2 separate regions of the Homo sapiens genome follow, and region 1 is linked to region 2. Evidence: fine-mapped expression QTL. A gene starts in region 2. The other region holds a variant in brackets. All regions are shown on one strand. Distances are from middle to middle.

What was found. PIP is the estimated chance that this variant, and not a neighbour inherited with it, causes the effect.
Region 1: its variant is the best candidate, but not a certain one, in a credible set for the expression of ZNF517 in amygdala (GTEx, PIP 0.52).

The regions. Positions count from the first base shown.
Region 1 is chr8:144,898,275-144,914,427 of GRCh38, forward strand. It overlaps ZNF250 (zinc finger protein 250), which reads right to left and starts at 3,179. Exons shown (of 6, transcript NM_001109689.4): 1 at 3,125-3,179. LOC124902042 reads left to right here and starts at 3,350. Exons shown (of 1, transcript XM_047422534.1): 1 at 3,350-4,007. The coding sequence starts at 3,408. The coding sequence ends at 4,007. RefSeq lists enhancers at 2,525-3,129, 3,130-3,732, 3,733-4,336 and silencers at 2,863-2,972, 4,033-4,112. The variant C/T (reference allele first, on the strand shown) is at 9,236.
Region 2 is chr8:144,793,536-144,806,459 of GRCh38, forward strand. ZNF517 (zinc finger protein 517) reads left to right here and starts at 5,378. Exons shown (of 5, transcript NM_213605.3): 1 at 5,378-5,402; 2 at 9,335-9,412; 3 at 10,106-10,232; 4 at 10,590-10,703. The coding sequence starts at 9,380. RefSeq lists enhancers at 1-895, 2,189-3,087, 3,088-3,986, 5,771-5,880, 5,785-6,682 and 3 more and silencers at 4,971-5,220, 5,361-5,520, 5,541-5,740.

The DNA of each region.
Region 1 (16,153 bases), 110 kb after region 2:
CAACAGAGTGAGACTCCATCTCAAAAGAAAAAAAGCAAATAAACAAACAAACAAAACAAAACAAAACAAAACAAAACAAAAAAACAACCAAACTGATAGCTTTCTTATATACCAGTAACACCTAATCAGAAAATATGAATGGAAAAAAATCTATTCAACAAATAGCAACAAGAAACAAGATTAAACCTTAGAAATGCAGAGTCCCTATAAAGAAAACTGTAAAACATCAAGGAAACACTTGAGGACACTCATGTGGGAAAACATTTTTTGGGTAAGACCTCAAAAGCACAGGAACAAAAGCAAACTAGACAAATGGAATTACATCAACTAAAAAGCTTCTGTACAGGAAAGGAAACAATCAGCAGAGTGAAGAAACAACATACAGAATGGAAGAAAATATTTACAAGCTATCCATCCGATAAGGGATTAATAACCAGAATGCAGAAGGGAGTCAAACAATTCAATAGAAAGAGACAACTAATCCGATTTAAAAACAGGTAAATGATCTGAGTAATTTATCAAAAAAAGACAATATGTATGGCCAACAAGCATATGAAAAAAACTAAAAATAGATCCACCATATGACCCAGCAATTCCACTGCTTGTTATATACCCAAAAGAAAGGAAGTCAGTATATCAAAAAGATATCTGAACATACATGTTGACTGCAGCACTATTCACAATAGCTAAGATATGGAATCAACCGAAATGTACATCAAATAAATGGATACAGAAAATGTGGTATATGTACACAATGGAATATGATTCAACTATAAAAATAAGGAAATTATGTCATTTGCAGCAACAGGGATGGAACTGGAGGTCATTATGTTAATTGAAATAAGCCAGGTACAGAAAGACAAATATTGCATGTTTTCACTCGTATGTGTGAGTTAAAAAAGTTGGTCCCATGGAGGTAGAGGGTAGAATGATGATTACCAGAGGATGGGAAGGGTGGGGTTGGGGGGAGGTATGAGATGAATAGAAGTGGGTTAATGACTACAAACATACAGTCAGATATAATGAATAAGTTCCAGTGTTTGATACCACGGTAAGATGACTACAGTTAATAATTTATTGTATATTTCAAAACAACCAGAAGAAGAGATGTGAAATGTTTCCAACACAAAAAATGATGTTTGAGGTGACAGACATCCTAATTACCCTGATTTGATCATTATACATTGTATGCTATCCTTGTATCAAAATATCACATGTATCCCATAAATGTGTATAATTATTATATTCAATAAAAAAGAACTTTAATAAAAATACAGGTATATTTTTATTATTTCATGTGGGAAGGGCTGTTCTAAGCAAAATACCAAAAGCAAAAAGCAGAGCTCCACAGATCTGCAGCTTATAAATCAAAATCATATGCACATCAAAGCTACCAAACTCCAAAAATGGACCTAAAGGCATGCAACAATTTAGTATATGACAAAAGCGGTTTTTCAAATCAATGGGAAGATCAATGGTGTTAGAAATGGCTATGATTTAGAGGAAAAAAGGAATTCCAAAAGCTGTATTCCAAACTCACCCCACAATAAAATAAATTCCAGACGTATCCAACATTTTACAAGTACCACAGAAAAACAAGAGTTTATTTTAAAAATAATCTTGGAGTGGGGAAAGCCCTTTAAAACACAGCACAAAGCCCAAAATGCCTTAAGGCAAAATATTTGACTCCTAAAAATTTTAAATTTTCTATTTTGAAAAAGCCCAAACCAGAATCAAACACCATAATCAGAGTCAAAAGACAAATTGAGAAGCATGTTTTCAACATACATGGAAAAAAATATGAGCTGGCAAATCACAAAGAAATACAAATGGCGAAAACACAAATGAAGGGATTTCAATCTCACCAATAAACGCAAAACGTCGACCTGGCAGGAATGCAGTGACCTGTCAAAGCCCACAGGACCAGAGTCCCGTCCAGGGCGGGAATGTCAATGGCAATCTCCCACCCTTACCCACTTCGTAGAGACCACCGGACAGAGAAACCTATGTCCAGAAGACAAGTTACGAACTGAAAAATCTGCGAGTACCCACCCGGCGGAGGACGAGTGGAGCGCCCCCTGCCGCCCCTGGTGTTAGTCAAACGACACCAGCTTCCCTTTGATGACAGAAAAAAGGGTGTGCGTGCGTGCCTAAAGCTCTAACGGCATTCAAAAATTCTGAAACTGTTCACAGCTCCTGCCTCTTCATACACTGGCAGAGTGTCGGGGGGGATGACTTTTATATATTTCTGACATGCCTGCATTAGAAGAAGTATTGCATATTATTTTCAATTTTAAAATTAAGCCAATAAACAACAAGGAAAATATTTGCTGTGTTGCAAAGAGTTGGGCTCATTCATTAAAATAGGGCTCTAACACAGTAACAGAAAAGACAGCATCGACAGCAAAATGGGGAGAGGATAAGACACCCGGCAAGTAGCACACTCGACCAACTGCTGAAACGAAAGCAGCTCGTTTTCGTCTTGACGCGGGAAGACTTTTTATAGCTAAGTAAAGTGGCGCTCCCGGTGCGCCGCCGGGGTCTTCATGGGGCTCCTCAGGATGTGCATCAAACAGAAAAAACCTCCATTTTTATATTTTGGGGAAGCTCCCCACCCCTTTCCGGGCCCATCCCAGGGGACGCGAGACCCCGAGGAGCGCGGCAAGAAGAGCGGCCCGGGGGTCCGGACTGCGCCCCTAGGACTCCGGCCATCCTGGCCCTAGGCACGGCGCCCGGTAGAAAGCGCGCGGGAGGGCACGAGGGGGAGGAAGGCCGGAGATCTGAGGAGATCCAAGGTGGGAGGGACGCCGGTCTGACGGGGCCCAAGGGGGTAGGGGCGGGGAAGGGACCGAGGCCGTCCGAGGCGGACGGGGGTGCGGGAGGGCCTGAGGGGGTCCAAGGCCGGGCGAGGGGAAGGGTGGGAACCCCGAACGGGGGAGAGGGCGCGGCCTTGGCCCTGGGGAGGAGGCCGCCGCGCGTCCGTGAGGGGAGGGGACCAGCGTAAACGCAGGAGGCAGTGCGTGCTCGCGGGGAAGAGTCCACGATTCGTGTGGAGGACGCACCGGCTCCGGTGTCCGTGATGGGAGAGGGTCCTGGCCGGCGACGACACGCGCCCCCCACTCACCGTCAGAGCCGCAGCCTCACGCGCGAAGGAACGGCATCCCGCAGCACCTTCAGACAAAGGGCTGCCCCGCCCCGTCTGCGCAGCCGCCAATCCCTGGGGGCTCCTGCCCCTCAGTTCCCGCCCCCACAGCCGAGTTCGCCAATCCTGGAGGGCAAGCATGTTTACGTCATTTGGCCCGCCTGCCCGCCCGAAGCCTTTCTCGGTGACCGACTGCAGGGAGCTCTCAGGAGCCACCGAGAGCCAGACCTCCGCGATCCCTAGAGGGGCCGAACACCTCTGGGCAATGGGCCCGGCCGGCTCCCCGGCCGCACTTCCGGGCGCGGAGGTTACAGCCCATCGCCGAGCCTTACCCGCTCGCAGTCCCGGTTCCCGAGCTCCTGCCGCCGTCGCCCTGTGGAGGACACCCCTGCCGGCCCCGCAGTCCCTCCTCGACTTGCGCTGGCTTCGGCCGTCCTGGAACTCGAGCTCGTTCCCCCCTCCGAGCCTTTTGCCCTTGCGGTTCCCGCTGCTGGGAACGACCTTGCCCTCAGCCGCCTGGCTGGTCCCTGCGCCGCTGCAGTGCGAATGTCGCCTTCTCAGGGGCCCTTTCTCTTCCTTCGTTGCAACACTGAAGTCCTCTTGTTTGATGACTTGCGTGAGGTTATTCCTCCCACTTAGGAGGCTGAGTGCTGCGAGGTCCGAGGCGCAGCCGCTCTTCGCTGTGTCCGGCCCGGCGTGCTCCCGACAGGGGGCGTCACTGAACAGCGACCGTCTCCGTCGCCCACTCGGCCCTGGTGTTTGCTTTTTGGTGTGTTTACACCGCGCACCTGGGGGAGAGGGGCGGGCCTTCACGAGGGCGCGGGCCACACCCGTGTGGAGGCTTCGGGCACAGCCCAGGACCTGACAGCCGCGGCAGGGAGGGTGGGGCTGGTTTGGAGCGGTGTCAGGGGACGGGAAGGCTGACGCCTAGTCCACCTTCTGCTGGCCCCACTCCCGAAGGTCAGGTCCGCGTCGTCCATTGGGCGCGTGGGCGGGCCCAGACTCTCAAGAGGCTTCCCCACAGGGCGGGGCTGGGGGCTGCGTGGGGGCGGCGGGGAAGGCTTAAGGTTAGGGGGTAGGCTTGAAGCGAGTGCCCGGCCCGTGCTGTTGGGAGCGGAGGCCGGGAGGATGTGGCGATAATTCCGTACTTGCCGCGCACCAGGCAGACGCGAAGTCTGTGCTACGCTTCAGCGAACTTAGCAGCCCTTGCGGGCAGGGGTTCGCACTTCACGGAGCTACCATCCACCACGCGCGTTTCGAGCAATGGGCCCGTTGCCTGGCGCACTAGAAGCCAAAACGGTGGCACCAGTTTTTGAGAAAAGAGAAGGCTTTATTATTTCAAGGTCGACGGCCAAGGAGACCGGAGGCATGGCTCAAATGTGGCTCCCACATGTGGGCTTAGGTCAAAGTCGACGGGTTAGGGAGGACAGGTTGGCACACAGAAGTGCTGGCGGGCAGGTTTCAATAGGAGGGCTTTAAACTTGGCCATTTATGGTAAGGTGTGGAATGGCAGGTTTCAGCACCAGATCTTCCAGGATAATGGACCCTTCCCTTCTGAAAGCGTTCCGCCCCTCAAGCTCCGGTCATGTCCCTGTCTTCTTGGCTCCACAGGGAGGAAACGTTGGTTCCGAGTTATGATTTTCCTCCTTTGTGCATGTCCGGGTTACATGACTTTCAGTTTTGGCTCTGCTATACCTCCTGTTACCAACAGAATAGGGTCAGTTTGGGCCAGTCTTGTGGTTACACCTCAGTGTCACAGGATTTCCTCTGCCAAAGGGCTGTGAAGCTCAGGACCAAGGTAATCAAAATTCAGCTCTACTATTGGATTGTCCTGGATTGTTTTAGCAGTTGACAGGGATCAAGCTCTGTCCCAGCAACCTTGATCCCAACAGAGAACTGATGCTCCTAGGACCTTCACCTCAGACCTCAGTGCATCCTGGTTTTTGTTTTTCTTCCTCCTCCACAACTTTTTTATTTTGCAAATGTTGATACATTCATAAAGGTTGAAAGAATAATACAATGAATACCTCCGTGCCCTTCACTTAGATTTAGCAGCTGACATCCTCTCTAGCACGTCCCTTCTGTGTCTCTGTCACTCTTTTTCCTTCAACAGCACAATGTTTATTGAGTGCTTGTGTGCTAAGCACTAAGTGTCGGGGCTACATCAGTGAACAAGCAAGTGCCTAACAAATCCATGTCTTTCTGGACCATACATGTGAATGGAGACAGTAGGCAATACGCAGAATAAATGTAGGAATTACAGAGTGTGTCCAGAGATGGTGAGGACTACAGAAGGTCTGGGCAGGTGCCATTGTGTCTGCTGGTTCACCTGGGCGACATGAGGCAGCAGCTGCCCCCTCTTCCTCTGGCTCCTTCAGCTCCAAGACTAAAGGCTCCAGCTTCTCCTATAGGGCAACAAAGGGGTTTCAGCGCATCCTGGGCTCCAGCTTGAGGTCACAGACCTCAACTTGTCTCTCCTCACTTTACATCCATCTTCCCTTCCCAACTGTCTGCCCTGTTCCAGCATCAGATGCAAAGACAACAGCCTTACAGGAACTGTTAACTATGTGCCACAATGGTGTAAGGCACAGTCCCTGCAACAAATCGTATATGATATATATAATATATATACACACAATTTACGTATCGTTCATGAGTATACAGTTTACTTTTTTTATTTTTTATCCTTTTTTTGAGACCGAGTTTCGTTGTCGCCCAGGCTGGAGTGCAATGGCATGATCTTGGCTCACCGCAACCTCTGCCTCCTGGGTTCAAGCCATTCTCCTACCTCAGCCTCCTGAGTAGCTGGGATTACAGGCGCCTGCCATCATGCCCAGCTAATTTTTGTATTTTTAGTAGAGATGGGGTTTCGCCATGTTTTGACACCAGTTGTTTTGGAAAAACTCAAACTGTTTTTTTTTCTGCTCTCACACTGCCACAAGTGGGATTCAAACCCACACCTACCTTAGGAGACCAGAAAATTGTTTCAGAAAAACTCTCAAACCCTATTTTTCCTCTGCTCTCATACTAACAACACAGAAGACTTATGTAGCCCCAAAATATATGGGGATTTCTCCTCATCAGCAAGCCATCAATTCTACTGGGTGTCCTCCAGTTCAGCTCCTTCACTGTCTACCTGGAGATAGTGCCGGATCCCACAGGATGAGGGCTCAGTTCCCGACTCCCCAATCCCCGACAGGAGTCACAGCCTGGGCCTCCAGAACTGATTGACTTCCTTCAAGTCAGTTCACGACTCCCCAGTCCCCGACGTGAGTCATAGCCCGGGCCTCCAGAACTGATTGACTTCCTTCAAGTTGGGGTTTCCATGACTCCCTCTTTGGGTTTGATTTGCTAGAACAGCTCACGGAACTCAGGGAAACCCTTACTTATGTTTGCCAGTTTATAATGAAGGATATTACAGAGGATACAAATAAAGAGATGTGTAGGGCAAGGCATGGGGAGAGGGGTGCAGAGCCTCTGTGCCCTTGCAGGGCACACAGCCCTCCAGGAACTTCCATGTGTTCGGCTCTCCAGAAGCTCTACAAACCCAGTCCTCTTGGGTTTTCATGGAAGCTTCATGACATCGATATTTTTTCCACCAGGCTATGAGGTGGGACCCTCTCTGGAATGATGGTCTTATGACCCACAATCAGAGAGGTAGGGGAAGATTAGGGTCCTGCGGGCAGGAGGTCAGAGAGATTTTGTTCTCTGAAGCCTAATGCATCCAATGTTATAACAAACGAGTGTAACAAGGGCTATGGCAGTTATGAGCCAGAAACCATACAAACGTGTGTGTGTGTGTGTGTGTGTGTGTGTGTGTGTGTATGGAAAGAGAGAGAGAGACCAGAAGTGCTATGCTGGAAACTATTCTTTTGAGGTTGTGTTCACATTTTTTTTAACCAATTTAACATATTATGTTACTATCTCACTTAAGATTGGCATTGACTGTACAACAGAAAGCTGATTACAGTGGCTGAACCAAATAGGTGGTTTTTTTTATGAGTCAATTTTTCTAGGAATACGGAGCCCATCCAAGGCCACACAATGCCACCAGGCCTCTAGGCTCCCCCTTTATTTTCCATTGGCCATCTTAATAAGCAGCTTTCATTTTTTTTTTTTTTTTTTGCCTCATGATTGCAAGAAGACTGCTTCATCACTAGAATCACATCCAGATTCCAGGCAGAAAGAGAAAAAACAAAAGACAAAATCAAATGTATGCTCAGCCAACCCCATGTCTTTCAGAACTGCACCCTGTGACTTTTACTTATGTATTTTTGGTCTAAAGTGTGTTACAAGACCAATTCTAGCTCCAAGGGTGATTAGGAAAATGTGTTTTTTCAGCTGGGTAAAGTGCCATGTTTAACATTAAAAATTGCCAAAAATCAGGCTGGGCACGGTGGCTCATGCCTGTAATCCCAGCACTTTGGGAGGCTGAGGTGGGCGGATCACGAGGTCAGGAGATCGAGACCATCCTGGCTAACACGGTGAAACCCAATCTCTACTAAAAAAAAAATACAAAAAATTAGCCAGGCGTGGTGGCAGGCACCTGTAGTCCCAGCTACTTGGGAGGCTGAGGCAGGAGAACGGTGTGAACCCAGGAGGCGGATCTTGCAGTGAGCCAAGATCGCGCCACTGCACTGCAGCCTGGGTGACAGAGCGAGACTCCGTCTCAAAAAAAAAAAATTGCCAAAAATCCCTGATGGTGTTTTTGTGATGCAATGTGAGAACTTACAGGTAATCAATTTGACACCAGATAAGTGATAAAGAGTAAACTTAAAAATCAATTTAAAATTCATATCCTCAGATCTGATTTCATTAACTATCATTCAGTTTATCCTCAACCTAATTAATATGTACAACTGAGGATATTTAGAAATACTCTGTTCAGAGAAGAGAAATAAACATTTCTTATGGGGAAATATACTATAAGGCTGATAATAAATTGATTTTTAAAAATATATTTGACTGCTATGTCCTTACTGCTGTATTTTTGTTGCTTTATTGAGGTATAAATTGCACAGACAATAAATTGAACATACTTTTAGTTTGATGAAAATGTTGACCTAAGTAGATGCCTGTGAAACTATCCCCACAATTAAGATACTAAACAGGTCCATCAGCCCCAAACGCCCCCATCCCTGGGTCTGCTTTCTGTCACTCTAACTCAGTTTGTAGTTTGTATGATATTATATAATCATAGAAGATACATTATTTTGGAGTATGGGTGGGTCCGGCCTCTTTCACTCAGCATAGTTATTTCGAGATTTAGCCATTTGCTGCATATATCAATAGTTTGTTCCTTTAAATTGTTGGGCAATACTCCATTGTATGTATGTACGATAACTTTTTAATCCATTCACCAGATATTGGACATGGGTTGTTTCCATTTTTTAGCTACAGACATTTGTATGTAAGTTTTTGTGTGTATCTATGCTTCCTTTTTTCTCTTTTTCTTCTTTCCTTTTTCTTTCTTTCTTTTTCCCTCCCTCCCTCTCTCTTTTTTTTCTCTCTGTCTTCTTTGAGATGGACTCTCACTCTGTTGTCCAGGCAGGAGTGCAGTGGCGTGATCCAGGCTCATTGCAACATCTGCCTCCTGGGTTCAAGCAATTCTTCTGCCTTAGCCAACTGAGTAGCTGGGATTACAGGCAGGCACCACCACGCCTGGCTAATTTTTGTAGTTTCAGTAGAGATGGGGTTTCACCATGTTGGCCAGGCTGGTCTCGAACTCCTGACCTCAAGTGATCCACCTGCCTCTTCCCCACAAAGTGCTGGGATTACAGGTGTGAGCCACTGCGCCTGGCCTGCTTTTGTTTTAAAGAAACTGTCAACCTCTTTCTAAAGTGTTTTTCACCACTTGACCCCCCCTCGAGCAGTATGTGGCAGCTCCAGTTGCTCCATATACTTGCCTACCCTTGGTATTGTCAATTTGTACAAAATTAGCCATGCTGGTGGAAGTACAGTGGCATCTTATTGTGTTTTTCTTTTTTTGAGATGGGGTCTCACTCTGCCACCCAGGCTGGAGTGCCTTGGCGTGATCTCGGCTCACTGCAACCTCTGCCTCCCGGGTTCAAGTGATTCTCCTGCCTCACCCCC[C/T]AACTAACTGGGATTACAGGTGCGCACCACCACGCCCGGCTAAGTTTTGTATTTTCAGTAGAGACAGGGTTTTGCCGTGTTGTCCAGGCTGGTGTCGGGCTCCTGACTTCAAGTGATCCATCTGTCTTGGCCTCCCAAAGTTCTGGGATTACAGGCATGAACCACTGTGCCCAGCCTCATTGTGGTTTTTATTTGCATTTCTTTAATGCTTAATGTTGCTGAGGGTCTTTTCATGTGCTTGTTTGCTGTGTACATATATTCTTTGGTGAAGCAGCTGTTTACATTTTTTGCCCATTTTAAATAGTCATTTGTCTTATTATGAGTTCTTTATAGGATTGGATACTGGTCCTATGTTGCAAATATATGTTTTGCAAATACTTTCTCACAGTTGTACCTTTTCATTTCATTTCATTTTGAGGAGCAAAAGTTTTAAATTTTGATAAAGGAATTAATGGATTTCTTTCCTTCAAAGTTCATACTTTTTGTTTCTTATTTAGTAAATTCTTGGGTGGGCACAGTGGCTCACACCTGTCATCTCAGCCCTTTGTGAGGCCAAGGTGGGCAGATCGCTTAAGCCCAGGAGTTCAAGACCAGCCTGAGGAACGTGGCCACAAAAAATACAAAAGTTAGCTGGGCATAGTGGCACATACGGGTAGTCCCAGCTATTTGGGAGGTTGAGGTGGGAGTGAACCCAGGAAGTCAAGGTTGCAGTGAGCCATGATCACACCACTGCACTCCAGTCTGAGTGACAGAATGAGACCCTGTCTCAAAAAATAATAATAGCCTGGGTGCGGTGGCCAATGCCTGTTATCCCAGCACTTTGGGAGGCCAAGGCGGAAAGATCACTTGAGGTCAAGAGTTCAAGACCAGCCTGGCCAACATGGCGAAACCCCATCTCTACTAAAAACACAAAAAGTAGCTGGGCATGGTGGTGGATACCTGTAATCTCAGCTACTCGGGAGGCTGAGGCAGGAGAACCCCTTGAACCTGGAGGTGGAGGCTGCTTGTTCACTGATGTAGCCCCGGCACTTAGTGTTTAGCACACAAGCACTCAATAAAACAAAAACTAATAATAATAAAATTAATTAATTCTTGCCAAGTCAAGATCTGTAAGGTTTTCTCCTATTTTTTTTTCCTTTTTTTCTTTTTTCTTTCTTTCTTTTTTTTTTATTTTAGACAGAGTCTTGCACTGTTGCCCAGGCTGGAGTGCAACGGCGCGATCTTGGCTTACTGCAACCTGTGCCTCCTGGGTTCAAGCCATTCTCCTGCCTCAGCCTCTGAGTAGCTGGGACTACAGGCGCGTGCCACCACACCTGGCTAATTTTTAGTAGAGATGGGGTTTCACCATGTTGGTCAGGCTGGCCTTCAACTCCTGACCTTGTGATCTACCTGCCTCGGCCTCCCAAAGTGCTGGGATTACAGGCGTGAACCACGGTGCCCGAACTCCTATGTTTTCTTCTTCTAAATTTTATACATTTAGTTGATCATACATTTTGAGTCGATTTTTATACATTGTATGAGGTAAGGACTGGAGTTCATTCGTTGGTATATTGTTACTCAGTAGTTTCAACATTTGTTGAAAATGATACCCTAATCTTTTTTAGACAGGGTTTTGCTCTGTTGTCCAGGCTGGAGTGCAGTGGTGCCATCATGGCTCACTGTATCCTTAACCTCCTGGACTCAAGCAATCTTCCTGCCTCAGCCTCCAAAGTTGTTGGGATCACAGGAGTGTGCCACCGCACCAGGCTAATTAAAAAAAAATTTTGTGTGGAGACAGGGTTTCCCTATGTGGCCCAGGCTGGTCTTGAACTCCTAGGCTCAAGTGGTCCTGCTACTTTGGCCTCCCAAAGTGCTGGGATTACAGGTAGGAACCACCCCGGCCTGACAAGTCTAATCTTAAAATAATCTTTTGTATATTATTTTATATGTGCTAGCTGTAATATGTTATAAATATTTTTCTCAGTTTGTCATTTTTTTACTTTATGTTGGTTTTGGTCATGTAAAAAAATTTCATGTGGTTAAATTTATCGATATTTTCTCTTTTGTTTCTTGATTTTTAGTAGTAGTAAAAATTTCCCTCTCAGTTTCTAGAATAATTTATTCATGTTTTCACCTAGTACTTGTTTGGTTTTGTTTCTTTACATTTACCTCTCTGTTCCATTTGCAGTTTATTCTGCTACATGGTGTGGAGAATGGATCTAATTTTATCTTCCAAATGGCTAGCTGGTTATTCCAATACCCACATATGACATTTATCCCTAACCCATCATTTGCTTATATCAAATTTCCATAGGGGAGCAGTCTCCACAGTTGATGTTCTGACATTTGGAACTGCTCAGACCTTAGCCCATGGGCAGAGAAAACTCTGCACACAGAAGCCACATGGGGTCTCTGGGAGCCACGGTGCTCCCCACCCCTCCCCACACACAACAGGGGCTGGTGGTGACTGTGGTTCTTGACCCTCAAGCCTTAGGCGAGTGGTCCAGCTGAAATTTGCCCAGTAAAGGCCCTATTTTCCCCCCAGGCCCTGGAGCTTCTTTTGGAGGGTTCTGTTGGACTCAACAATGACACACAAAGCAGTACAGCTCAGAGCACATGCTGGCCAGCCAGCAGAGAGCTGGTGAATGAATATGCTGAGGCAATGGAAGCCATACCACTGGGTGGGGTGGTCATCACCCAGACATCTGCTGACAGTGCCGACTGTGTGGTTACCTGCAGACTCAGATGACCCACCCACAATTTTGAGACTGATGATGTCACACAAAAACATACACCCCAAGGGGGGTGTGAAAAGGTTTATTTTATACATAATTGAGGGCAGCAGCGAGGCTTCCCAGGCAGGTCCAAAATGGCTTGAGACAGCAAGGAAAGGAGGCTGGACTGGGTTTTTATTGTGGTTGGGGGTGGGACTGATGGGAGGTTCCCACATACAGGCAGGGGCTTGTGTGGTTCGAATCTTCCAGTGTCACCAGAGGGAGCACCCAGGCTTTCTTACCAGTTTCCCCAGATGTGAGCACAAAGGAAAGAGGGAGGGTGAGACTTAAACACTGACAATTATCAAACATCAAAAAATGGCCCCAGATTGCTCATTATGCCATGTGAGAAGTATGTTTTGCAGGGAGCAGGTCTATGCAAATCTACCGCCAAAGGCAGAGAGAGATGAGAGGTCAAAGAAAGAGGCTGATAAGTCCAGTTTCCCAGAAGAAAACATTTAACAGGGACTTAGAAACAGAAGCAATGTCTTAGGCAGCTTTGAGATGATGGATCCCTGCACCTGCCCTCCAAAAAGTAGCAAGCTTTTTTGGTAAAACATGTGCAGCTGGTTATGTCTCAGACTTTCCTGCAAAACTTGTGACCAATGGGGAGGTTAGATAAGCATCCTTATGAGGGGTTATCTATGCTACAGGCATTGTATAAAGACCTTGCTGCAGGACCCTTTGGTATGCAGGAGTCAACCACTGCTCATCATAGTGGTTTTGCCTCAAGAGGGCATCATTCTTGCCAGGCGACAGGCTATTTTCCTACACTCCACTCAGTGAAACCCACCCTTACAACCTCACATGCCCTCCTCTTCTGGAGGAGTCCCTGGGCACACAGGGAGAGTGCTTGATATATAGCTTTAGCCGCAGAGCATTGCCGACAGAAAACAGACTGGGCCCAGTAGGGTTCCAGAGGAGGGAGATTTGCCAGCTTCGTTGAATCATCTCTAGTCTTTGGAATACGGATATGGTTTGGCTGTGTCCCCACCCAAATCTCATCTTGAATTGTAGCTCCCACAGTTCCCACGTCATGGGAGCAACCTGGTGGGAGCTGGTTGAATGACTGGGGGTGAGTCTTTCCTGTGCTGTTCTGGTGATAGTGAATGAGTCTTGTGAGATCCGATGGTTTTAAAAATGGGAGTTTGCCTGCTCAAGCTCTCCTTTTTGCCTGCTGCCATCCATGTAAGATGTGACTTGCTCCTCCTTGCCTTCCACCATGATTGTGAGGCCTCTCCAGCCATGTGGAACTGTATGTCGATTAAACCTTTTTCTTTTGTAAATTGCCCAGTGTTGGGTATGTATTTATCAGCAGTGTGAGAACAGACTAATACAGTAAATTGGTACCAGTTGCTGAAAAGATACCCAAAAATGTGGAAGCAACTTTGGAACCAGGTAACAGCAGAGGTTGGAACAGTTTGGAGGGTTCAGAAGAAGACAGGAAAATGTGGGACAATTTGGAACCTCCTAGAGACTTACTGAATGGCTTTGACCAAAATGCTGAAAATGATATGGACAATGAAATCCAGGCTGAAGTCATCTCAGATGGAGATGAGGAATTTCTTGGGAACTGGAGCAAAGGTGAGGTAACTCTTGTTATGTTTTAGCAAAGAGACTGGCAGCATTTTGCCCCTGCCCTAGAGATGTGTGGAACTTTGAACTTGAGAGAGATGATTTATGTTATCTGGCAGAAGAAATTTCTAAGCAACAAAGCATTCAAGAGTTGATTTGGGTGCTGTTAAAGGCATTCAGGTTTTTTTGTTTTGTTTTGAGACAGTCTCCCTCTGTCAGTCACCCAGGCTGGAGTGCAGTGGCATGATCTTGGCTCACTGCAACATCTGCCTTCTGGGTTCAAGAGGTTCTCCTGCCTCAGCCTCCTGAGTAGCTGGGATTACAGATGTACACCACCATGCTTGGCTAATTTTTGTATTTTTAGTAGAGATGGTGTTTTGGCATGTTGGCCAGGCTGGTCTTGAACTCCTGACCTCAAGTGATCTGCCTGCCTTGCCTCCCAAATGCTGGGATTACAGTGGTGAGTCACCATGCCCAGCCAAGGCATTCAGTTTTAAAAGGGAAACAGAGCATAAAGTTTGAGAAATTTGCAGCCTGACAATGAGATAGAAAAGAAAATCCCATTTTCTGAGAAGAAATTCAAGCTGGCTGCAGAAAATTGCATTAATAACATGGAGCCTAATGTTAATCACCAAGACAATGAGGAAAATGTCTCCAGGGCATGTCACAGACCTTTGCAGCAGCCTCTTCCATCTCAGGTCCAGAAGTTTAGGAGGACAGAATGGTTTTGTGGGCTGGGCCCAGGGTCCCTCTACTGTGAGCAGTCTAGGGACTTGGTGCCCTGTGTCCCGGCTGCTCCAGCCATGACTGAAAGGGGCCAAGGAATAGCTTGGGGGCAGAGCTGCCCAAGACCATGGGAACACATCTCTTGCATCAGCATGACCTGGATGTGAGACATGGAGTCAAAGGGGATAATTTTGGAGCTTTAAGATTTGACTGCCCTGCTGGATTTTGGACTTGCACAGGGCCTGTAGCCCCTTTGTTTTTGCCAATTCCTCCCATTTGGAATGGCTGTATTTACTCAATGCCTGTACCCACATTGTATCTAGGAAGTAACTAACTTGCTTTTCATTTTACAGGCTCATAGGCAGAAGGGACTTGCCTTGTCTCAGATGAGACATTGAACTGTGGACTTTTGAGTTAATGCTGAAATGAGTTAAGACGTTGGAAGACTGTTGGGAAGGCATGATTGGTTTTGAAATGTGAGGATGACATTTGGGAGGGGCCAGGGTGGAATGATATCATTTAGCTGTGTCCCCACCCAAATCTCATCTTGAATTGTAACTCCCACAGTTCCCGTTGTGGGAGGAACCTGGTGGGAGGTGGTTGAATTATGCAGGCAAGTCTTTCCTGAGCTGTTCTTGTGATAGTGAATGGGTCTCATGAGATCTGATGGTTTTATAAAAACGAGTTTCCCTGCATAAGCTCTCCTGTTTGCCTGCTGCCATCCACGTAAGACGTGACTGGCTCCTCCTTGCCTTCCACCATGATTGTGAGGCTTCCCCAGCCATGTGGAACTGTATGTCCATTAAACCTCTTTCTTTTATAAATTGCCCAGTCTTGGGTATGTCTTTATCAGCAGCGTGAGAACAGACTAATACAAATACCATTTTTGTTTTCTCAGAAGAAGTAAAATGAGAGATATGTAACAATAACTTGAATAGTAGAAATATAATGTGCAGAAAGATTACAATCAAAAAGAGAATCTGGGCTGTGTGTGGTGGCTAACACCTGTAATCCTAGCATTTTGAGAGGCCAAGCCAGGAGGAATGCTTGAGGAGTTTGAGACCAGCTTTGGCGACATAATGAGACTCTGTCTCTATACACACACACAAACGCAAACACACACACACACACACACACACACACACACACACACACACTAGCCGGGCATGGTAGCACACACCTGTAGTCTCAGCTACTGTGGAGGCTGAGATGTGAGGATCACTTGAGTCTGGGAGGTCAAGGCTGTAGCGAGCTGTGATTGTGCCATTGCACCCCAGCCTGAACAACAGAGTAACATCCTGTTTCTTTTTTTAAAAAAGAGAGACAGAGAGATAGAGGACAGACAATTTGTATGCCAAAATGGAAAAAAAATAACCTATTCCATTAATGAGCCAACTAAAAACATCATGAAGAAACTTAAAACAGGCATGTGTCACCACAACTGGCTAATTTTTGTATTTGTAGTAGAGATGGGGGTTTCACCATGTTGGCCAGGCTGGTCTCGAACTCCTAACCTCAGGTGAGCCACCTACCTCGGCCTCCCAAAGTGCTGGGATTACAGGCATGAGCCACCGTGCCTGGCCTAGACACCATTTCTTATTTGACAATGTTTCCTACATAATTTTAACATACCAAATTAGCCTAATATATCTCTCTTGGCCTTTCAGGGACCCTAATTTTTTTTTTTTTTTTTTTTTTTTGGAGACGGAGTCTCGCTGTGTTACACAGGCTGGAGTGCAGTGGCGCAATCTCAGCTCACTGCAATCTCCACCTCCTGGGTTCAAGCAATTCTCCTGCCTCAGCCTCCTGAGTAGCTGGGACTACAGGTGCATGCTGCCACACCCGGCTAATTTTTTGTATTTTA
Region 2 (12,924 bases):
GGAGAGGAGGGGCTGCTGCAGGAGGCCCTCCCCTAGGGTCGGCAGGGGGATGGAGGAGGAGCTGCCCGGTGGGGACTCAGGAAGCAGCACAGCCCACAGCTAGGGCCAGGGGCTGAGGGGCAGGACTGGACCCTGGGGGCAGGGTGAGGGGTTCTGGGGTCAGCCCAAAATTGGCCCACAGGCCCAGCCTGTCCGTCACTCCTGAACAAATCTGCTTCTCTGGAGGAGCAGAAGGAGAGTTGGGTGCGGGATAGAGGTGAGAAGAGTGCTTGGACACACAGGCTGTGGGGTCCCCAAGATGGTCTCACGGGTCTCTGGGATGAGATGCGGCTACCAAGACCCTACGTGCAGCCAGGAGACTGACCAGGCCGCTTTAAGGCTGGAAGAGACATGGCCCTGCCAGCATCCACCTGACAGTCCTGAGGACTGTGTGACTGGGCTCAGTCTTGACCTTCACGGGAGACCACACAGCCTGGTACACAGCAGGGGCTATGCAGTTCTGGGTCACTTGACAGCCACTCCAGACGAGGCCGCAAGCACTGGACATGGGGTTTTCCAGCCTTCTGGGGTGGAGCCATCTTTCTTAGGCCAGGATTAGTCCCTCCCCACACAGTGCCTCTGCTTGTGCTAGTGGCCTGGTGACCTCCCTTATGCCATCCGACGTCACCCCAACCTGCTGTTCAAACTTTATTGTTAGAAATTATTTATTTCCGGCCGGGTGCGGTGGCTCATGCCTGTAATCCCAGCACTTTGGGAGGCCGAGGCAGGCGGATCACCTGAGGTCAGGAGTTCCAGACTAGCCTGATCAATATGGACAAACCCCGTCTATACTAAAAATACAAAAGTTAGCTGGGTATGGTGGCAGGTACCTGTAATCCCAGCTACTCGGGAGGCTCAGGCAGGAGAATCACTGAAACCCAGGAGGTGGAGGTTGTGGTGAGCTGAGATTGTGCCATTGCACTCCAGCTTGGGAAACAAGCGCAAAACTGTGCCTCAAAAAAAAAGTTATTTCCTTCTGAAATTGTTCTTCAAATGTTTCTTGTCACATACATGCAGCAGTAATTTGGTAGAAACATGAGAAATTGTGATCCTCTGTCTTGCTCAGCTTGGCTCCCCTCCCCAACCAGCATTATCTGCCCGCACCCCCAATCCCCAACAACTGATGTGTCCTTATCTCCCTGCCCCCTACCGCGCCCCCGTAGCATAATTGTATGCCACATATGGGCACACCATCACATATGGCTAAAATGGGATCACTCCGTAATGAATGAATATATATATATATATATTTTTTTTTTTTGAGATGGAGTCTCGCTCTTGTTGCCCAGGCTGGAGTGCAATGGCGTGATCGGGGCTCACTGCAACCTCCGCCTCCCGGGTTCAAGCGATTCTCCTATCTCAGCCTCCCGAGTAGCTGGGACTATAGGCGCACACCACCATGCCCAGCTAATTTTTGTATTTTTTAGTAGAGACGGTGTTTCACCATATTGGTCAGGCTGGTCTTGAACTTCTGACCTTAGGTGATCCACCTGCCTTGGCCTCCCAAAGTGCTGGGATTACAGGCATAAGCTACCGTGCCTGGCCAATGCTAGGCACTTTTTATGGGCCAGGGACTGATCTAAGTACTTTTCATGCACACTGCTTTTCTTTTCTTTTTTTCTGAGATGGAGTCTCACTCTGTTGCCCAGGCTGGAGTGCAGTGGCGCGATCTCGACTCACTGCAACTTCTGCCCACAGAGTTCTAGCGATTCTCCTGCCTCAACCTCCCGAGTAGCTGGGATTACAGGCGCCCGCCACCGCACCCAGCTAATTTTTTGTATTTTTAGTGGAGACGGGGTTTCACCATCTTGGGCAGGCTGGTCTTGAACTCCTGACCTCGTGATCCACCCGCCTTGGCCTCCCAAAGTGCTGGGATTACAGGTGTGAGCCACCATGACCCACCTCATGCACGCTGCTTTTCTAATTTAGTGTCTTATAATTGTGGAGCTATGTCTTGTGAAAAGGTATTTCCAACAAGATTCTCTGAGATAGTTTTCCCATGTGCTTTCAGTGCCTCAGGGGTGGGGTAGTCCATAGGAGCCCCTGTTACCCATTCAGGAGTGGGTGAGGGGAGACCCCAGGGACCAATGCCAGCAGGAAGAGGTGGGGTGGTTGGGAGGATGGAGATTGCACATGCTTGGGGACAGCTTGGAGGTGCGTGTTAGAATTTTTCTGAGAGGGGTTAAGGTGCTGTTTTGTGAAGCACAACGAGTTAGTGAGTGCTAAATCTCCATGACCCCTGCCGTCTATATGGCTTGGATACGTCATGTCAACCTGACATAAAGCCATGGGTGAACATTCTCTGGGACCCCACCTGTGTGTGGGGAAAAGCAAGAGAGATCAGATTGTTACTGTGTCTGTATAGAAAGAAGTAGACATAGGAGACTCCATTTTGTTCTGTACTAAGAAAAATTCTTCTGCCTTGAGATTCTGTTAATCTATGACCTTATCCCCAACCCCGTGCTCTCTGAAACATGCGCTGTGTCAACTCAGGGTGAAATGGATTAAGGGTTGTGCAGGATGTGCTTTGTTAAACAAATGCTTGAAGGCAGCATGCTCCTTAAGAGTCATCACCACTCCCTAATCTCAAGTACCCAGGGACACAAACACTGCGGAAGGCCGCAGGGACCTCTGCCTAGGAAAGCCAGGTATTGTCCAAGGTTTCTCCCCATGTGATAGTCTGAAATATGGCCTCGTGGGAAGGGAAAGACCTGACCGTCCCCCAGCCCGACACCCGTAAAGGGTCTGTGCTGAGGAGGATTAGTATAAGAGGAAGGCATGCCTCTTGCAGTTGAGACAAGAGGAAGGCATCTGTCTCCTGCCCCTCCCTGGGCAATGGAATGTCTCGGTATAAAACCCGATTGTACGTTCCATCTACTGAGATAGGGAAAAACCGCCTTAGGGCTGGAGGTGGGACATGCGGGCAGCAATACTGCTTTGTAAAGCATTGAGATGTTTATGTGTATGCATATCTAAAAGCACAGCACTTAATCCTTTACCTTGTCTATGATGCAAAGACCTTTGTTAACGTGTTTGTCTGCTGACCCTCTCCCCACTATTGTCTTGTGACCCTGACACATCCCCCTCTCAGAGAAACACCCACAAATGATGAATAAATATTAAGGGAACTCAGAGGCTGGCGGGATCCTCCATATGCTGAACGCTGGTTCCCCGGGTCCCCTTATTTCTTTCTCTATACTTTGTCTCTGTGTCTTTTTCTTTTCCAAGTCTCTCGTTCCACCTTACGAGAAACACCCACAGGTGTGGAGGGGCAACCCACCCCTTCACATGTGTGATTAAATAGTTGAAGTTTTGGCATCCTTTTACAATGAGAGAATAGCACAGGATTTACATACAATTTTTGGACATCCAAGTTCACCACAATACCCATATTGTCTGAAATTATGTGCCATGGCCCTGAGGGGAGTCATGATCCCTCCCCCAAAGATGGTTGTGGCTGTCAGGACACAGCAAGTACCCACAATTCCCTCCTGGTGAAGAGTGCCTCTGTCCTACCCAGCCTGTGCCTCACTCCTGAGCAAATCCGCTGTCAGCAGTGTGAATGCAGGAGACACCCTTGGTCCCCCAAAGAATCTGAGGAACCTAGGGGCATCCAGTCCTGGGACAAGGATCTATGTAGACATCATACAAGTTTAGCACCACCCATAGTGGAGTGCTGGGCTAAGCCTACTTAGACAGATATCACCCTCCTCACCCAGTTTCCCCTGTCCTTGTGAAAAGGAAGAAAATGATGGTTCCTGGTCTGTCTTGTGCTCAAATCTGACCCGGCTCCCAACCAGCTGTGGCTCTGGATGAGTCCCTTACCTTCTTTGATCCTCATTCCTCCTCCCAGGGTCTGGTTGCAATTCAGAGGATCTGAAAACCTAGAGTGTGTGTGAAACCATCTCTAAAGTGTGTGTGGAGGTGAGTGGGAACTCGGGAAACACCGAGTTTCATATATTGAACTGTTCCTCCCACTTGCATGATGGTTTCACAACACAGTTTAGTGGCTAAAGAATATGTGACTTGGAGCCAGGTCTGTGGGTTGGATCCCAGCTCTGTTACTTAAGAGATGAGACCTTGGCCAGGCACAGTGGCTCACGCCTGTAATCCCAGCACTTTGGGAGGTCGAGGCTGGCAGATCATCTGAGGTCGGGAGTTAGAGACCAGCCTGACCAACATGGAGTAACCCCCTCCTTACTAAAAATACAAAATTAGCCGGGCGTGGTGGCGCATGCCTGTAATCCCAGCTGCTCGGGAGGCTGAGGCAGGAGAATCACCTGAACCTGGGAAGTGGAGATAATGTTGAGCCAAGATGGCACCATTGCACTCCAGCCTGGGCAACAACAGTGAAACTCCGTCTCAAAAAAAGAGACTAGACCTTGGCAAATAACAGGGACACTATGCTCTCCTCATTTTAGTATGGGAACAGTAGTATTTTGATAGGATTACCATGAGGATTAAATTAGTAAATACAAAGAGCATACAAATGTTTACAGAAGTCACAGGGCTGTTAGAAGTCAGAATGGCCACCCTTGGGTGCAGACAGGAGAGGTGGTCTGAGAGTGATCAGAGGGAGCAGCAAAGACACTTCAAGATCCCAGAAACTGGCCCGGTGCGGTAGCTCACGCCTGTAATCCCAGCACTTTGGGAGGCCGAGGCGGGCGGGTCACCTGAGATCAGGAGTCCGAGATCAGCCCGGGCAACATGGTTAAACCCCGTCTCTACTAAAAATACAAAAATTAGTCGGGCGTGGTGGTGGGAACCTGTAGTCCCAGCTACTCCGGAGGCTCAGGTAGGAGAATCGCTTGAACCTGAGAGGCGGAGGTTGCAGTGAGCCCAGATCACACCATTGCACTCCAGCCTGGGGAACAAGAGCGAGACTCAGGCTCAAAAAAAAAAAAAAAAGTCATACTAAACAATGTCATAAATTTATATGAGACCGACCCTGGCCGGACGCCCCCGCTCCGCCCTTCCTGCGGGTCCGGGAGTCGATCCCCCACCGTGCTCCCCAACCCCCGCAGGCCACCCGGGGGCAGAGAGTGGGCGCAAGGGGTGAACGTTCGCTGCCTCCGATCCCGGGGGAAACGGAGCGCCGAGAACGTCGACGCCCTTCCGCGCCCGTCGGGCCTGGGACTGATACCCGGTCTGGCCCGGAACCCCCCAGGCGCGCCCCTAGCTGGGGCCCTGGCGACCGCCGCGCCGCAGGGGCTAGAAGCCGTCGAGACGCGAGCGCCATCGAGGCGCGCGGTCCTCCAGGCCTCCCAGAGCGGCGCAGCGGCCGTTTCCGGGGGCGGGGAAGGAACCGGAGCCTGAGAGCCGGGCGCCGTGCGCTCCTCCCCGCGCTGTCTCGGCGGCCCAGGGTGAGTCGGCCGCGGCCGCGGGGCGGGGACTGGGAGGGGCGCGGTCCTCCGAGCCCGGCCTGGTGGAGGCTGTAGCCCCCGCAGTGGGCGCGCGGAGCTCGGCAGGGAGCGGACCCGCAGCCGTCACTGTCGCCTCCGCTCGCCTTGGGTTCCGAACCCTTATCGGGGCGAAGGGCCCTGCGCCCCGGTCCATGCTGGCTGTGGTCGGGGGCGTGCGGCCGGGCCCCCGAGACCCGCTCCGCCGAGCCGGACGGTTGCGCAGAGATGAGGCTGCAGGCGGGGAGGCCTGGCGAGGTGGGGCTGCTCCGGGGAGGACCAGGCTCTGCCCCTCGCTTCCGTCCGATGGCGGGCTCTTCCCGGCAGCCTCGCTCCCCGGCGGACGCCGTTTCCCGCAGCGTTCATTTACCCTGCGCAGTTTTGCCCCCTCCCCGGGTTGGGGCATTTATTGGACCAACAGTCATTTCGTAAATAGCTGTTGGGTATTTAACTGTGAGCGTTCCGGTGCTGGGGACCCCGCAGTGAGCGAACAGCCCGCCTCGCCTCCAGGAGCATGAATTGTAATAGAGGTGAGGCGTTAGTGTAACAGGCAATAACGCAGCAAAATAACTTCTGGTTTTGACAAGGGCCTCGCACAGAATAAACCAAGGAAATAAAATTGTGAGAGTTAGGGGGTTAGGGTAGCCTTGGCGGTCAGGGGAGGCTCTGTAAGGAGTTAACATTTGGCCGTGCGCAATGGCTCACGCCTGTAATCCCAGCACTTTGGGAGGCCGAGGCGGGCGGATCACGAGGTCAGGAGATCGAGACCATCCTGGCTAACACGGTGAAACCCTGTCTCTACTAAAAATACAAAAAATTAGCCGGGCGTGGTGGCGGGCGCCTGTAGTCCCAGCTACTCGGGAGGCTGAGGCAGGAGAATGGCGTGAACCCGGGAGGCGGAGCTTGCAGTGAGCCGAGATCGCGCCACTGGTCTCCAGGCTGGGCAACAGAGGGAGACTCTGTCGCAAACAACAGCAACAACAAAAAAGAGTTAACATTTGAACTGAAACCTGCTGGAGGAGAGAAGCAGCCACAGATCCCTGAGGAGAAACTCCCAGGCGGGGGAACAGAGAGAAGGCTGGCATGGCTGCGGCGTAGTGAGCCGGGTGCCCCAGGTCCCCGAGGAACAGGGCTTATTCTGCGTATGGAAGGAGGTGACCCCTCCTAGTCTTCCAGACCCCAGTTAAATGAGTTCCCCCAGTAACATTTCTTGGTGGTCCTTCATCTAAAATTAGCACCCTCCTCCCCTTGACATTTTCTGTCTCAGCAACAGCTTGATCTGTTGTCATCATATCACTGCTCCATTATTTTTAGCTCAGTGCTGTTTAATCTGATTGAAGGTTTACTTCCTAATTCCGAAGATAGAACTAAAAGCAGGTTTTTTTCCCCTCTAACCAGGTAGCCCCTCCCTGAGGACATGCACTCCCTAGACATGAGCAAACACAAAGCAGCAGTAACTTACCGCTCCTAGTCCAAGTCCTACCCTAGTCCTGGGTTGCAGTTCTTACCAGAGTGGAGGGTGGTATGTGTTGAGGGGTCGGGGATCAAGTCTTCTGGCAGCCTCATACCCTGAGATACTCTGGTTGCCTTGTTGGGGTGAGGACAACACGTGTGGCCATCGCAGTGGCCCAGGTGGGTCCTGCCACAGACTGCCCTGGACAGACAGTGAGTGGGGGCTGGGTGGGGGTGGTGTGGCCCTGCTCTTCCATGCGTTTGCAGTCTGTGCCCTCTGTGCAGGGGTGATTCACGAATCTGTCTGATCCACCCCCATCGCCCTTCGTACCCTAACATGTCAAAAGGGCTCTGCTGCCAAATGTCACTTCATAGCATTGTGACCAAGCAGCCCTCCTGCCTCTAAACGCACTCTTTATTTTTATTTGAGAGAGAACCTCACTCTGTCGCCCAGGCTGGAGTGCAGCGGGGCACACTTGGCTCACTGCAACCTCTGTCTACTCAAGCAGTTCTCCTGCCTCAGCCTCCCAAGTAGCTGGGATTACAGGTGCGTACCAGCACACTCGGCTAATTTTTGTATTTTTCGTAGAGAAGGGTTTCACCATGTTGGCCAGGCTGGTCACGAACTCCTGACTTCAAATGATCCGCCCTCATCGGCCTCCTAAAGTGCTGGAATTACAGGCATGAGTCACTGTGCCTGGCCTCTAAACACATGCTTTTTGTTAACTGATGCCTAAAGGGAAACATCTCTTTACAAAGTGGCAGCTACTTAGACGGCTCCAGCTCTACAGAAATGGATAGCCCCGGAGACCTTCACCCAAACACAAGAGCTCAAGTGTCTGTTGAAGGGAAGAGTGAGGAGAACAGGGCCTCATGCCTACTCTGTATACGTCTGCTTAGAGCAAAATTATTGTTTTGTTTTGTTTGAGACAGAGTCTCACTCTGTCGCCCAGGCTGGAGTTGGTGGCATGATCTCGGTTCACTGCAACCTCTGCCTCCTGGGCTTAAGGGATCCTCCCAGGATGACCAAGGTTGCACCATTGCACTCCCGCCTGGGCAACAAGAGCGAGTTGTCGGAGTCTCACTCTGTCACCCAGGCTGGAGTGCGGTGGCGCGATCTCAGCTCACTGCAAGCTCCGCCTCCCAGGTTCACGCCATTCTCCTGCCTCAGCCTCCCTAGTAGCTGAGACTACAGGTGCCTGCCACCATGCCCGGCTAATTTTTTGTATTTTTAGTGGAGATGGGGTTTCACCGTGTTAGCCAGGATGGTCTCTGTCTCCACCGCACCTGGCCAAAAAAGTGTTAAATTAGAAAAATAGAAAGAGGCCGGGTGTGGTGGCTCACACCTGTAATCCCAGCACTTTGGGAGACCGAGGCAAGAGATCACTTGGGTCCAGGAGTTCAAGACCAGCCTGGGCAACATAGTAAGACCTCATCAATAATAAAAACTTTTAAAAATTAGCTGGGTGTGGTGGCATGCGCCTGTAGTTCCAGCTACTCGGGAGGCTGAGGTGGGAGGATTGCTTGAGCCCAGGAAGTTGAGGCTGCAGTGAGCTGAGATCACACCACTGCGCTCCAGCCTGGGTCACGCATTGAGACCCTGTCTCAAAAAAAGGAAAGAAAAATAGGAGAAAAAGAGGAACCACTCATAATTCTATGACGCAGAGAGAGCTAGAGTTTTATGCTACCAGCTTTATTTTTCTGCTTACAGTCTGCTTGTTTCATGTAGTAAAATGCAAGAATGTTTTCTGATGTTCCCACAACATGGTTTTATTGGTTGCAGAGTCACCCATTGTTCATTTCATAATGAGCAATGTTGCCCAGGCCGGAGTGCAATGGTGCAACCTTGGCCATCCTGGGAGGAAATCTTAAGCCCAGGAGGCAGAGGTTGCAGTGAACCAAGATCACACCACCAACTCCAGCCTGGGCGACAGAGCGAAACCCCGTCTCAAACAAAACAAAACAATAATTTTGCTCTAACCAGTCACGCTTTGTTCATTTCATAAATCCTTTCTGAGCACATGCTGTGTGCCAAGCCCTTCCTCAGGCCCTAGGGGTACAGACCAGAGGCCTTGTCTAATTGGGGAAGGCAGATAAGGAGCAAGGAAGTTAACTTGTCTTATGTCAGATGGCATAGTGCTATGGAGAAAAATAAAGCAAGGAGCGAGGATAAGGAATTCCCAGGCAGGAGGGGAGGTGGCAGTTTAAAAAATGGTGGTCACAGAAGGCCTCCCAGCAAGGTGAGAGCCAGAAAACATTGGAAGGAGTGGGTGTTCCCATGGAGAAGCTTGGATACACCTCCTTGGGACGTGAAGGAGGCGGCTGATGTGATTGCCCTAGCACTTTACCCTCTCCTGCTCCCTTCTGGATCTGGAGGGGCCTTCTGGGGGGCTGGAGGGCCTTAGGCCTGGGCTCTTTCCACTCATGGCTCTATGTTCCCTCAGAATTCACTGTCTGTAGCATCTGCTCCTCCACAGAGGGACCCTGGAATGGCGATGGCACTCCCGATGCCTGGACCTCAGGTGAGCACCCCCTGAGCCCGTCCATTGCCCCAGGAGACTGCTTCGCCCCTAGCCTCAGCTTTTCAGCCCTGAGAACCTTACAGCTTGCCTCACACCCACCCACATCACAGGATGGAGTCTGCAAGCCGAGGACAGCCTCCTCGCTCTATGGCCAGGCCTCACACATGGCTCTGCCAAATCCTTCCAGCCTTTGGGCAGAAGTGGGCTTCCTGCGGCCTCCTCTGGCCCCTGAGCTTCTATGGTCAGCCATTGAGGGCAGGGTCCCTGTCCTTCCCCAGTGCCTGCCTCCTTCCTGGTGTGAATGGTCAGCCCATCCTCCCTCTCCTGATGCTGACTCACTGCTGGTGTTAGAAATTGAGACCCAGAGGGTGGGGATGCTCCCCACAGTGCAGGTGCTCCTTCCCCAAATCCCTGATAGCCTGTGGAGAGGGCGAGGCCAAGGTTGGGACCCCCTTCCTGGTAAATCTCTCTCCCTCCCCCAAGTTCAGTTTTTCCCTCTTCCTCTCTGGGGCTTCTGCTGAGAATGAGGCCGCTCACTCGGGGGGTGTTGGGCTGCCCTTTCTCTGCTGGGCCCTGTGGATGCAGCAGTGGGCAGCAAGGAGAGAGGCCTCTAGCAGATCATGCAAATGTTTCTCATCTGCTGGGTTCTCACCGAGCCCTTGACTGCCTGGATAGCAGAGTATGTGGTTGCAGGAGGCGGTTGTGTTCGAGGATGTGGCTGTGTACTTCACAAGGATAGAGTGGAGTTGCCTGGCCCCCGACCAGCAGGCACTCTACAGGGACGTGATGCTGGAGAACTATGGGAACCTGGCCTCACTAGGTGAGGGCTTCTGCCTTTGGTCCTGGGGCCGGGAGGTGCGTCTGTGTTAGCTTCAAAGGAAGTTGGTTCCATTGCAGATTCAAGGTCTGACACATTTTTGAGGGGAAGCTGGAGGCTCCCCAAGGAGCCCCTCTCTGCTTCCTGTTGGGCACCCACTGCCAGCGTCAGCCTGCCTGAGGCTTCTCTCCTGGGGCAGGCCCCCCATCTCCCCCTGGCCACCTAGCTGCCCCCTTCTGGGATAGTGAATGTTCCTGACCCACTCCAAGCACTCTGTGCCCTGATGGCCTCCAGCCAGGCACCTGGGCGTCCCTTCTCCCTCCTGTACTGATACGTGCTGCTTTCCTTCTCTGAGCTTAGGCTTTCTTGTTGCCAAACCAGCACTGATCTCCCTATTGGAGCAAGGAGAGGAGCCGGGGGCCTTGATTCTGCAGGTGGCTGAACAGAGCGTGGCCAAAGCCAGCCTGTGCACAGGTGAGTACAAAGCACCCACAGGGCGTGTCCTGTGCTGCCAATGTGGCCTGGCCTCCGGGCAGCTCTGCAGGTCCCTTCTTCTACAGTGGGAGGTGTGTATGTTTAGCTCCTCACAGCAGGGCCAGATTTCCTACTAACTGCCTTGCTTGTAGGTCTAAGGTCAAAACTAACTTATGCAGGAAGACCCAAGTGCGAGAGTTTTCCATTTTGGTGTCCCCAAGGTGTCAGGGGCCGGGTCTGTGCTCACAGTGCCATTACCCTTGGGTTGTGTAGGGACCAGCCCTACAGGGTCTGTGGGTTTTTCTCCTCATGTGCAGAGACGAGAGATCATAGAAATAAAGACACAAGACAAAGAGATAGAAGAAAAGACAGCTGGGCCTGGGGGACCACTGCCACCAAGACATGGAGACTGGTAGTGGTCCTGAATGCCTGGCTGCGCTGTTATTTATTGGATACAAGGCGAAAGGGGCAGGGTAAAGAGTGTGAGTCATTTCCAATGATTGATAAGGTCATGTGAGTCACATGTTCACCGGACAGGGGGTCCTTCCCTGTTTGACAGCCGAGGCGGAGAGAGAGACAGGACAGCTTACGCCATTATTTCTTCTATGCATTTTAATGACTTTTAGTACTTTCACTAATTCTGTTACTGCTGTCTAGAAGGCAGAGCCAGGTGTACAGGGTGGAACATGAAAGTGAAACAGGAGCATGACCACTGAAACACAGCATCACAGGGAGACGGTCAGGCCTCAGCATGGCTGTGGGCGAGTTTGACTGATGTCAGGCCTTCCACAAGAGGTGGTGGAGCAGAGTCTTCTCTAACTACCCTGGGGAAAGGAAGACTCCCTTTCCAGGTCTGCTATGTAACTAGTGCCTTCCCAGGCACTGGGGTTACTGCTAGACCAAGGTCAACTAAGTAACGGGCGTCTTCCCAGGCACTGGCGTTACCGCTAGACCAAGGAGCCCTCTAGTGGCCCTGTCCGGGCGTGACAGAGGCTCACACTCTTGTCTTCTGGTCACTTCTCACTGTGTCCCTTCAGCTCCTATCTCTGTATGGCCTGGTTTTTCCTAGGTTATAATTGTAGAACAGAGATTATTATTATTATTATTTTTGAGATGGAGTCTCGCTCTGTCGCCCAGGCTGGAGAGCAGTGGCGCGATCTCAGCTCACTGCAAGCTCCGCCTCCCGGGTTCACGCCATTCTCCTGCCTCAGCCTCCCAAGTAGCTGGGACTACAGGCGCCCGCCACCATGCCCGGCTAATTTTTTGTATTTTTAGTAGAGACGAGGTTTCACCGTGTGAGCCAGGATGGTCTCGATCTCCTGACCTTGTGATCCACCGCCTCGGCCTCCCAGAGTGCTGGGATTACAGGCGTGAGCCACCGCGCCTGGCCATTATTTTTTTTTTTGAGACGGAGTCTCGCACTTTGGCCCAGGCTGGCGCGTTCTCGGCTCACTGCAAGCTCCACCTCCCGGGTTCACGCCATTCTTCTGCCTCAGCCTCCCGAGTAGCTGGGACTACAGACGCCCACCACCACGCCCAGCCAATTTTTTTTTTTGTATTTTTAATAGAGACGAGGTTTCACCATGTTAGCGAGGATGGTCTCGATCTCCTGACCTTGTGATCCGCCGCCTCGGCCTCCCAGAGTGCTGGGATTACAGGCGTGAGCCACCACGCCTGGCCAGAACAGAGATTATTATAATATTAGAATAAAGAGTAATGCTACAAGCTGATGACTAATACTATTCATATATCATCATATCTATAATCTCTTTCTAGTATAACTATTCTTATTTTATATATTTTCTTTATTACACTGGAACAGCTTGTGCCCTCGGTCTCTTGCCTTGGCACTTGGGAGGCTTGCTTGCCCACAGGTTGCTTTGGTTTCCTGGTTCCCTATGGCCCATGTGCCAGGGACTGAGCTCAGGGCAGTGGAGGCTGCAGAAAGAACCTTGAGCTGGGGAGGAGGCCCCCAGTCCCAGAGGTCTGCGCAGGCACCTGCTCTACGCACCTGCCCAGACATGTTTGCTGAGTGCAGGAACTGTGGGTGAACTCTGAAGGAGAGAGGAGTAAAGAACATGGCTGTGGGGTGAGGTACAACTTGCACCTCATGCCTGGCCTGTCTTCCCTGCCAGACCTTGGGCCTCTCCTATGGGCTCCCCTTGAGCTAGCCTCCCACAGTGCTGGAGCCATTATTAGCCTTTTTGTTCCCTTCTCACCC